Linked DNA regions of Homo sapiens: regions 1, 3 and 4 are each linked to region 2. The links come from fine-mapping of genetic effects on gene expression. A gene starts in region 2. Each other region holds a variant in brackets. All regions are shown on one strand. Distances are between the middles of the regions.

Region 1 (2,680 bases), 74 kb after region 2:
TTAAAAACTGTGTTAGCCCTTTAACCTTTAAACTAATTGAATTAGTAAATTTTTAAAAATCCCTTTTATTTTTATTTATTTATTTCTTTTTTAAGAGACAAGGTCTAGCTCTGTGATGCAGGCCGGAGGACAGTGGTGTGATCACAGCTCACTGCAGCCTTGAACTCCTGGGTTCCAGCAATCCTCCCACCTCAGCCTCCTTAGTAGGCGTGGCTACAGGTGTGTACCACCATGTCCAGCCCTAAATTTCATTCTTTTTAATTTCAATATTGTTATGTGTTTTCTAATGTTTTATAACTTATTGGTATGGTAGATGTACATGTATACAAATTAAAAGAAAATTTATATATATTTTACTGGGGATGCAAGCTCAAAATTTTTTTTTTTTAAGTAATGGAAGACAGCAAAAGAAGTTTGGAGATTCCTGGTTTAAAGCATTTAAAGCCTCTGTGAAAATTTGCCCAGGTATTTACCTCACAACAGGTCTATGAGTTTGGTATTATTTGTCCTTTCTTACGGATGAGGCAGTCCGGGCTTATGGATGAGGCAGTCCGGGCTTGGAGAGCGGGGCGGAGGGTGGTGGGGGGCCTGGGACACGCTCTCCCCAGTCCAGCCAACACCTGCTTCCTGTTGATGATCCTCACCAGGCCAACAACTTCACTTTCCACACTCAGTGCCACGAAGTGCAGCTCTAAGCTGGGGATTTCTGTGCAGAGATGATCCACTGAGTGCAACCCACCACCGTGCGGACACCACCCCTGCAGAATCATCTGTGAAAACAACCCCAGGCCCAGACATAGGGGCCAGCTAAGCTTCGTAGCCCTCGAAATACAGGGAGTGCCCCCTCTGGACCCTCGAGCCCACAGTCCATCCACCACAGAGGTGTCTGCTGCTCATCAGATAGTTCCTACCAAGAAAATGCTGTGTGAACCCATCTGTGTGGCAAACCGGCACGGGGAGAAAGCTGACTTCCAAGGACGTCTACCAACTGTCACTTGCAAACCAGAACTTGCCTCTTTGTAGATGAAGACTGGCAGGGCTGAAGAAATGATCTCATGTTGAAATTAATGATGAGCTTCAGGGTGAGGTGACTCAGTTCGAATGCTGTTGAATGTTGGTGTCATGGGACTTTTACAAGAAGTAAAACTGGGCTATAAAAATGATCCCCTTCCCCTCACTAGAGAAGGGAGGTTCTATTCCTCTCTCTGTCTTTCCCTCTCTCTATATATACCAAAGGTCAAATCTTTGGTATTTTGCATTGAGTCTTTAATTATTCATTCACTTTGACCTAGTAATTGCACTTCAGAAAAATAAAGGAAAAACTCGGGGCATAAGTGGTGGTTATGGGGGGCAGGGGAAGCGGGCATGTGGTTGTTTTTCTCTTTTATTTTTAAATTTTTTGCTTTTTCTGCATTTCTCAGGTTTGCCCTAATGAG[A/C]TGCCTGACTTTAATAAGAGAAGAAACCATCAGTGTTTGCAAAGCCCCCTCAGTGTGCCTCACACTCCCTCTTCAGGCACAGCAGGCATCTTCTCTGAGTGCCAGGGCCCCGGTGACCACACACCCACATACACGGACCACCCACTCAACCCCTCAGGGAACACTGCCACCCCCACTTGCTACATCAACTGCCTTTTCACCTTGTTTAGAAGCAAAAGTCAACTCAGGGGCCAGGAGACCCTGGGCATGGGGCTAGGTCTGGGCAAGGTCTCGAGTCAGGGAGAGAGGGGCAAGGAGCCATGTGCCTGGAGTGAGGCTGTGTCCCTGCCCTGGGCAAGTCAGGGTGGCTGGAACCTGCCCTTCTGGAGTGGGCCCCTCGAACTTGTTAGAGTACTTATAACCTCCTGTCTGCACCCAGAAAACCCGCCCAGGAAGCATTTCATGTGGTGAAGAGAGATTCCAAACTGGAACTTGGAGGCTCGTTCCCAGCCCCTCTCTGACGCCGATTTCTTGAGTTGATTTTGCCTGTGCATTGAGCAGTTGGGGCTACATAAGGTTTACAGGATTCTAAAAAATTATCATGACATATGTCAGGCATACCAAAAGTGTAATGAGTCATAGAATAAACACCTAGGCACACCCCTACTCAGCTGAAGAAGTAAAACAGTATCAAGGTAGTGGAAATCCCTCCTGCATCCCTCTTCCCCCTCCCCAGTCTCCCACAACCCTTCCCCACCCCACTCGCAGTGGGGAGAAGCATGGCCCTCAGCTCTCTTTATGCGCTCACTTCTTATATCTCCCTAAACAATATATGAAACAATTTTCCATAAGCGTCACTTGAATACAAGCAGTCTAATATTGTATATACTTGCCTGTAACTTGCTTTTGTTTTTACTTTTCCTCTTGAAATAATGTTGAATTCACAGAAGAGTTGCACAGATGCCAAGTTCCCTGACACTCTTCACCAGCTTCCCCTAGTCTGAACATCTTATATAACCACAGTCCATTGATCAAAACTAAGACATTTACATTGGTGCATCCCCATCAACTAAGTCACACTTTGGCTCAAATTCCACCAGTGTTTCCACTCATGTCCTTTTTGTGTTCCAGGATCCTGGGACTTCAGGACACCACGTTGTATGTAGCTGTATGCCTCCTTAGTCTCAATGTCATGTTAGTGATATCTGATGTGTGTGCTCATCTTCACTGTTCCACGGTATTTTATTGTGTGAAAACAGCACAAT
Region 2 (2,647 bases):
GCTCTTGTCTTTGCAGGAGCTGCAGATTCTGCCTTGGGTATCTTAGAAGCTTTGTACAGGCATCTCCAGCTCAGTGGGAACCAAATGCCATCCTATCTCCCCACCTCACTGGTGTCACCATCTTCCTGGGAGCTGTCTGGATAACCCTCTCCCTGGCCCTCACCTTTAATTTGTCCCTGAGTCCCATCAGGGTCACCCTCCATCCCACTGCCATCTTCCTGGGAGCTGTCTGGATAACCCTCTCCCTGGCCCTCACCTTTAATTTGTCCCTGAGTCCTATCAATCAGGGTCACCCTCCATCCCACCACCATCTCCCACCTGAGTGAGAATGGGAACCTCCTCTCCCACTCCCTCCAATTCCCCTCCACTACAGCTGGGGGAGGCTTCTAAAATGCCAAATATAGCCCAGTTTCTGCAACTTGCAGGGTCCCCAGCCCTCGGGAGAAAGTCCAAACCCCTGACAAAGCCTGTGAAGCCCCCTGAGGCCCTGTGGGTCTGGGGCTAGCTCTGGGCTGCAGCCCTGTCTCTGGTCATAGTCCAGCATCCACCACGGTCCAGGTGCACTGAGCTGCCGGCCCTCTCTCCCCTCCGCTGGCTCCTTCCTCCTGACTGCCCGTCTTTCCCTGGCCTCTCTATGCTTCCCGCTGGCATTGACGACAGTGTCCTGGAGAGCTGGGCAGGGAGGGCTGCCTTGGGTTCCTACTGTGTGCTCCACCTAGTGCTGGTCTTGGCCCTTAGCAAGTGCTCAGTACACCCGTGTGGAATTGGGCGGTGAGGGTAAAGGGAGGAGGAGGGAAGGGCCAAGAGCTCCCTGTGCTCAATGAAGAGAGGGACTTGAGCAAGTACTCATTTTTAGTACTTCCCAAGATGTGTACAAGAGGCCTGGGGCCAGCAGAACTCCTTGCCCCTGCCCATCCCCCTCCAGTCTATGGGGTCCACCCCCAGCTGCCCAGCTGTGAGGCCTCCATGGCTCAGCTCCTCATCTATTAAGTGAGGACAGCAGTCGTCCCCCTCACAGCGAGGCCACGTGGGTTACATAACTTTTTCTTAGGGTGCCTGGCCTGCAAGAAACCCCTAAGAATGTTCTATATTCCTAGGCCCACTGTTATTCTTAATATTACCCAGGAAAGGGTGGTGAAGCGAGTAAATAAATGAATAGGTGAATGAATAAATGAATGAATGAATGGCACCCTAGCCCCACTGTCTTCTGGGTGGCTTCAGGATCCTTGAGGAGGTTGGCCGTGTAGGTTCCCCTCAGGTAGGACCTAGGTGAGCTGGGGAGTCTTAACTCACCCAGGGCAGGCCTTAAGGTTGGGCACACCCATGTGTGGGCTCTGCCCTGGCCTTAACCGAGAGAGGGAAATGTTGACGGGGAAGAAAGCCCTGCCCACCAGGCAGCCCCACCCACCTGGGCTAGCCCCACTCACAAGCAGCCCCACCCACCTGGGTTAGTCCCACCCACCAGGCAGCTCCGCCTACCTTGGCTATCCCCCTCTGAGTTCTTGCCTTGATTCTCCTGTTACTGTCCCGCGAACCCACATCCCTACAAAGCAGGAAAGTATGCTTGGGAGAGGCCAAGTGAGTGGGGAATCAGCCCAAAGCCAGGCGTCCAGGGTCTCCCTCACCTGAAGCTGACTTTTTCCCCACCTTGGACAGAGGGCGGGAGATGCCATCCCCACTGAACCCAGTGCTTTCACCAGCCATATTAGCTCCCACTCACCCCCCGTCGTGGAAGCCTCGGCCGTCACACCTGCAGGGCCGGGGCGTGCATGGCCTCAGGGATGGCCTGTTCAGCTGCTGGGTGACTCGGGTCCAGGTGCCTCACCACCTGCTGAGCTCTGTGTGATTTCTGGACACTTCTGCTCGTTGCCTTTGGGCTCAGTGAAGAGTCTGGAGTTTATCTGGAGTGAGGTGGCCGGTTCTTGGTGGGATCTGAGCAGGTAAGAAGCAGGGTCTTTCTTATGTTTTAAGGAAAGCCCTGTGGCTGCTGGGTGGGGGACCAGCTGGAGGGGCAGGAGGGCAGCAGGTGACTCATTACAAGGCTGGGGCCATCATCCTGTGAGAGCTGGGCATGACCAGTGCAGGTCAGTGGGGTTGAGGGTACAGACCAGTGGGACCCACAGACGGCTCGGGAGTGACCAAGCCTCTGCTGAGCTGCCCAGGTCCCCTCTGGTGGACACCTCCTACCCGGAGCCCCCCAAGGTGGTGCCAAAGCTAGACCACCATACAGCCAGAGGCCTCCAGGCCCTACCCACGACAGCCCAGCTGGCTTCTGCCCAGCCACCGTCACACACAGAGGGCAGCCGTCCCCATGGTCCCTAGAGGCGGTTGAGGACCACTGTGCCTGGAGTCATCTGTGGCTATAAACCAGGAGGAGAAGGCTGCCCACCCCCTGCCCCAGAGATGGGGAGGCTGGGGCCACCCGGTGGATTTGGGCAGGTCCCAGCTTCCAGGATCATGAGGTGAAAACGTGAAGGGACCCTAGAGGCCATGGGGACCCAGGCACAGAGCGGCGGCCTCTCATCCTCCCCATGGTCAAGGAGGTCAGTGCCTTCCCGGGGTGGATTACGGATGGTAGTATCTTCCTTCTCCTCAGAGTCCATTCAGGAGCAGGAAAGTTCATCTCAGACCCTAAATCCAGCCACGT
Region 3 (2,680 bases), 27 kb after region 2:
CACCTGTTGTCTGGGAGCCCTTGCTCCAAGTGTGACTGCTGTCCCTGGATATTCTGTCTAGCAAGGTTTCCAGTGTAGTCCATTGTCACCCACACTGGGTGGCCTTCAAGGCCGAGTGAGGCCTTTCTCTATGTGCAGGCACAGTGCCTGTGTTTCCTCCCTCAGCAGGCTCTGAGCTCCGCTAAAGCAGAAAGGGAGGTGGGTTCACCGCACTTCCCAGAGCCTGGAGGACACGCTCCCTTACTGTCTGACGAGGGAGTCAATGTCAAAGGCTACAGAGGGGCAGGAAGGCGGAGGTGTTTGTGCACCACGATGCTGGACGTGGAGCCTGGGGACTTCCCAACATGGATGCAAGCTCTGCAGAGGGAAGGGGTGCTCTACAGGCTGACCACTGGCAACGACTCTGGGCGTTCTGCTGGCACCCACAGGGACAGTGGTGGTGAGTTCTGCTCCTTGCAAGAAGGCAGTGAGCACAGCCCAGGATGAAGGGGTGCGTGTAGATGGGGCCATGTGCACGTTGGTCCCCAGAGATACTTCCAGGGCCACCTGCAACCCCCTGAGGACCCCCAGACCTGCTGGAAGACCTGAGATTGGAAGGATTTCATGCTCCCCCTGGCCGCTGCCTCCTGTCTCCCCCACTTTGGCCACCTATCACCCCATCCAGTGGTACCCTCCTTTGGTGGGTAACTCCAGCAGAGACCTCAACTTTCTATGCTTTTCAACCTCCGGCCTCAGGGCGCGTTGCAGGAGTCCCCAAACCAAGGGCGTTTCTCCTTCTCGCCACCAACTTCCCACCCCTGGGAAAGTCCACATTCCTGAGCCAGACATTCACCCGGGGGAATCATTACCCAGTGCCCTGTGTGCAGATGCCAGGGCAGCGGGTGTCCTTCCTCCCCAGGGCTGCATCCTTCCCCTGCAGACTGCACAGGGTGCCCCCAGCCTGCCTCCCCAAAAGTCTTAGGTAACTGTTGGGTCTCTCACTCTAACACCCACATAAGTTGGGTCTGGATAAACCACAATGCGGGATCCTTCAGGGGATGGAGACAGTAGCTGAGGAAAAGAAAGAGAAGTGGGACTCAGGAGAGTGGTAGGGAGACACAGGCCATGAGTGAGGCAGGGAGAGAGTGAGAGGTGTGGACGGACCCTCTGTCAATCCCAGAGGTAACGCTGACCACCCCCAGGGCAGGGCAGGAGCCAAGAGACAAGAAGAGAGGAACCCGGGGAGCGTTTCAGCCCAAGCTGAGGAGGCCCCAAGAGTCCCTGCACCCCAGGAGTTCTGTGGGTGTCCAGGGCAAGAACCCCTGTGCCGGAAATGCCTTCTTTTGCCCCTCCAGGCCTGCCCTCTGCTCTGCTCTCTGCTTCAGGGGCTAAGCCCGATGGAC[T/C]CATTCCTCAGCTCCCATGCCCTCTGGCTTCCTTTTGGGAGTGCCCCAGCTGTAGGTGAAAGGGAGAGGGGAGGGTGAAGTCAGAATATTCATGTCACAGCATCGAAAGCTTTGGGGTCACTTTGGGCAGGCTGTGTCCCTAGACTGAAGGTCTTAAGCTTCTCCCAAGGCAGGCCCCTCTCCAACATTCCCTCCTTTCCAGGTTCTGGCATGGCTTATGCCTTCCCTTAAACCTTCAGCCTCAGGGTGGCCGCAGCCCTGGGGCATGGACTGTGGTGCACTGCCTGCCCCTATGGTTTCCCTGTACCCAGTAGTTTTCCCAACTTGAGTCATTCTTTCCTAGTGGAAACCTGACACTTCCCCATTCTGTGGCAGCCTAGGAGGGTGGTCTGTACCCCAGAGAGGCCTCTAGCTGTGATGTGCCACTGCCTCCCTATGCAGGAGGCTTTGATGGGGTACACTCTAAACACCCCCAGGACGACCCAGGCATCCTCCTGGAAAGCTGGGTGCAAGCCAGAGCAGGGCTCCCAGGTCCATGAGGGTGCAGCAGATGGAAGGCCAGCCCGGTGACCATGTGGTGATAGCACAGGGCAATGATGACTGGAGGCTCTAGGGTCACAGGGATTTTGGTTCAAGTTCTGCCTCTACCTGTTACTCATTGTGCACCCTTGGGGTGCCCCACATCATCTCTCTGAGGCTCAGTTCCACCTAGAGTTCTATACAGAATTCAGCAAGAAGCCGAGTGTGCAGCCCCCAGCCCCAGCTCCAGCGCACAGTGGCCCCAGCACACACTGATGGGGCACGTTTTCCCAGCTGCCCTGTTGGTTTTCCTCAGTGAATCGCTGCTGAGTCAGTTAGCAGGTCCCCAAAGTAGAAACTTTGTCAGATCCCAAAGAATGTCAGCCCCAGTGACTCACGTGTGTTTCTCCCAAAAACACAATCGCAGGCCTTTGGGATCAGCTCAGCCATCTCTGAGACATTTCAATGCTGTGAGCAGGATGCTGGGTTCCGGCCACAAAAGAGCTGGGTGCAAGCCTGGTCTCCATGAAAGGAGTTCCCACTTGGAAAATCTGATTCAATTGACTTCTCCCTTTCAGTTTAGCTTCACAGTTCCCTGGCTATGTCTACATCTAAGAACTATGGCTCCATGATGAATTGCCTGGCAGATGGTGGTTGTGATGTTTGTGTTGTTGCTATGGTGATGGAGTTGCTGTTTCTGATGGTGGTGATCCTGGCAGTGGTGGTGGGTTATTTCTAAGGGTGATAGTGGGGTGGTGATGTGGTGGTGATGGTGACAG
Region 4 (2,680 bases), 140 kb before region 2:
GGCCCGGGGCTGGGAGCATCCCCGGATCCATCCTCAGAGGCCCGGGGCTGGGAGCCACCACCGCCCAGCTCCATGCGTTCCCATTGGCGGGGTCTGGGTCTGCGCTGATGAGGCGCTCGTCACTCTTATCCTGGATTATATTCACAGGCGGGTAACTCGGGGGGTGGTGTGATGGGGAGACACAGGAGGGAGGAGCAGGGAGGGCAAGATGAAGGGGAGCAGTCTGGGAAGGGGGCGACTCCAGGCACAGCCGCACGTCCCTGGGATTTTCAGGGGGAGCTCTGGGGGTTCAGAGTGGCCTCTAGTTTGTCCTGGTCCAAAGCAGGGAAGCTGGGCTACGTCCTGCCCAGGTCAGCCTTAGGTTAAGGGCTGCCTGGGGGAGGGAACTTCCTGGGCCTTCGGGTCTCTGTGCACTGGGGTGGCTCCTGTGGCCCAGAATGCCCTGGAGAAGGGTCCTACTGGAAGCGAAGGTGCAGGGCAGCAGGGCCTGAGGCGCAGGAGCTGGTGGAGGCTCCCAGCACAGGTCGCCGCCCCAGTCACATCACTGCTGATGGTGGGGGGACTTGGGGAGTTTCCCCCGAGAATGGGAGGTCTCACAGTCCCCGTGCTGCAATGCTGTCGGTGCACTGTGTCTGCAACGTGCTCATGGTCACTTGCTTTTTCTCTGTGGCCCCGGCCGCTTTATCCAGCAAGTAGCCCCCTCTCCTCTCCGGAGAAGCCGAGCCTGGATGCCGCTGGGAGGAGGTCACTCCCTTCCTGTCTCGAAGGGCATGCCGTCCTCGTCCTTGCTGACTCCCAGAGGCCCAGGGACGTCTGAGGGGGAGGGGCCGGGCCTCCTTGACCCCTGCGTGTGGACACCATGTGACTGGGGTGTGGTTGACTCTCTGTGTCCGATTGGGTGCTTGGCAAACACAGAGAGTTTTGTCCAAGGCCACCTTGGTCCCCACCTGTCCAGGTTGGGAGGTGCCCTGCCTGGTGTGGCCTGAGCTGAGCGCCTCTGGCCGGAGCAGACGGCCCCGGCTCCCCCAGGACATGTCACCTGGAGAGGTGGCCCTTTCAGGTAAGGGACATGCCCATTGGCAGCAGCCTCTGCCCCCTCCCTGCATACACAGCTGCTCCCATCTGGGGACCCTCACCCCACGTGCGGATGGGCTTCCCCAGGAAGTCGGCAGGACTTTCCCTGGCCTTCTGGAAGTCCCCATCAAGCAAATGCTCTATCGATGACTTACTCTATGACGGGGTCCAGAGAGCTAACTCCCCACCCACGTTCGAAGTGATCTTCAAACCGCTGCGCGTGGAAAACAAGCCCAGAGCTCAACGTTCCCTAAGTGAGTGGCCTTTGACAGCAGTGCCAGGCAGCCCAGTGGGTGCAGGGCACACCACAGATGGAGGAAGGGCCAGGCATGCTTCCCAGACAGCCTCTGCCAGTCCAGGCAGGGGCTCCAGGGTGGCTGCGGGAAGGCAGCTTAGGCGGTGCCCGGCCCAAGGTGAGTTGGCATCA[T/C]GCTCCACTTCCCGTTTGAACGTGTGGTCCCGTTTGAACCTTCTGGAAAGGCTTGGCAGGGAGGACACTCATTTTGTAGACTGGGAAGGAACTGAAGAGCTGGCTTCCGGCGACCAGCGATGGGCCCCAGATCCCTGTGGCCAGGAAGGCCCCCATTGCTGTTCTCTGTAGCTCAGGCTGGACATTTGCTGGTGAGAACTGGCCGGACTCCCAGGACCCAGCCGCCAGAGACCTCTGTTCCTCACGCTCAGCCCCCTAGCTCCAACTGGGGCCCCTTTGCTTTACAGGATGTAGGCTTGGAGTTAGAGGGGGCAGTTCTGGCGGTTTATCTCTCACTCACAGAAACTCGGCTGTGAGAGGCCAGAGCTGGACTTGGGGGGCAGAGCCTGTAGAGGTCAATGTGTCCTTATTGGGTGTGCACACGTGTGAGTCTGTGTGCACACACATGTATACATGTGTATGCGTGTGTGTGTGTGTGTGTGCGCGCGTGTGGCAGTCAGAGAAGGCTGGGCAGACACTGTTATTTCAGAAAAGATGTGGAGGCCTTTCTGAAGGCATCCACTGAGAGGCAGGGGCCAGGATCTCTGTGCCCAGGCGCTGGGCGTGGCCCCTGAGAAGTGCTCTCTCCCCTAATCCTTCAAAGCAGGAGGTATTTGCTTCACTTTCTAAGGCAGGATCTGCGGCTCTGAGAGGTTGCACAACTTGCCCGAGGTCACTCAGCTAGTAGAAGGCAGGACTGGCCTCCGGTCCAGGGTGACTGTGAGGATGTCAGGGGACCCTGCAGGCCTGTGCGCCCCAGCTTAGGGCTACAGGTCCCACCTAAGGCTTCTTGATGGAGGTTGGAGGGGCGAGCTGGAGGGAGGTGCTGCTGGGGGTCCACCGGTCCCCTTCCTGGGGGATGAAGCCGGTTTCCCGCGCTGACCCCCTTGCCATCAGAGGCCCAGAGCGCGGTCCTTGTGCTGCTGAGCTGTGTTTGGGGCCGCCTGTGGGCTGTGGCCGCCTGTCCTCATCTTCTCCCCTTTTCTCCTTGGCTTTTCATCCTCAGGCTCCGTCCTTCTTCCCCGTGGTGGCCCCAGCCTCCCTGCCAAGCTTCCCGGCCCCCGCCCCATCCCGGGCCTGCTGCTGCGGAGACCGTGGGCCGGCGCTGGACGGCGCGGCCTCCAGAAGTGATAGCTAATT

Alleles and levels. Positions count from the first base shown, and alleles are read on the strand shown. Sizes are in standard deviations (SD) of each study's normalised expression. Not every link is listed here.
With allele T in place of C in region 3, the expression in subcutaneous fat of the gene that starts at base 1,519 in region 2 is higher (moderate effect, 0.49 SD a copy in GTEx).
For the expression in esophagus muscle of the gene that starts at base 1,519 in region 2, T is the low allele of the variant in region 4 and C is the other (small effect, 0.29 SD a copy in GTEx).

The links. PIP is the estimated chance that this variant, and not a neighbour inherited with it, causes the effect.
Region 1: its variant is fine-mapped to the expression of MYEOV in whole blood (TOPMed, PIP 0.94).
Region 3: its variant is fine-mapped to the expression of MYEOV in subcutaneous fat (GTEx, PIP above 0.99). The same link has a PIP of 0.9 or more in tibial nerve.
Region 4: its variant is fine-mapped to the expression of MYEOV in esophagus muscle (GTEx, PIP above 0.99).

The regions. Positions count from the first base shown.
Region 1 is chr11:69,366,648-69,369,327 of GRCh38, forward strand. LOC105369370 (a long non-coding RNA gene) reads left to right here. Exons shown (of 5, transcript XR_950269.4): 3 at 96-219; 4 at 392-465; 5 at 648-2,680. Among named protein-coding and RNA genes, the nearest start is that of LINC02953, 58 kb to the right of the region's middle. The variant A/C (reference allele first, on the strand shown) is at 1,437.
Region 2 is chr11:69,292,637-69,295,283 of GRCh38, forward strand. MYEOV (myeloma overexpressed) reads left to right here and starts at 1,519. Exons shown (of 3, transcript NM_001293291.2): 1 at 1,519-1,940; 2 at 2,597-2,647. RefSeq lists an enhancer at 90-641.
Region 3 is chr11:69,319,705-69,322,384 of GRCh38, forward strand. No RefSeq gene overlaps it. Among named protein-coding and RNA genes, the nearest start is that of MYEOV, 27 kb to the left of the region's middle. RefSeq lists an enhancer at 920-1,786. The variant T/C (reference allele first, on the strand shown) is at 1,383.
Region 4 is chr11:69,154,628-69,157,307 of GRCh38, forward strand. SMIM38 (small integral membrane protein 38) reads left to right here and starts at 1,308. Exons shown (of 3, transcript NM_001369201.2): 1 at 1,308-1,487; 2 at 2,547-2,680. The region is part of intron 2 of LOC338694 (a long non-coding RNA gene); the gene reads right to left. RefSeq lists an enhancer at 862-1,789 and a silencer at 2,674-2,680. The variant T/C (reference allele first, on the strand shown) is at 1,502.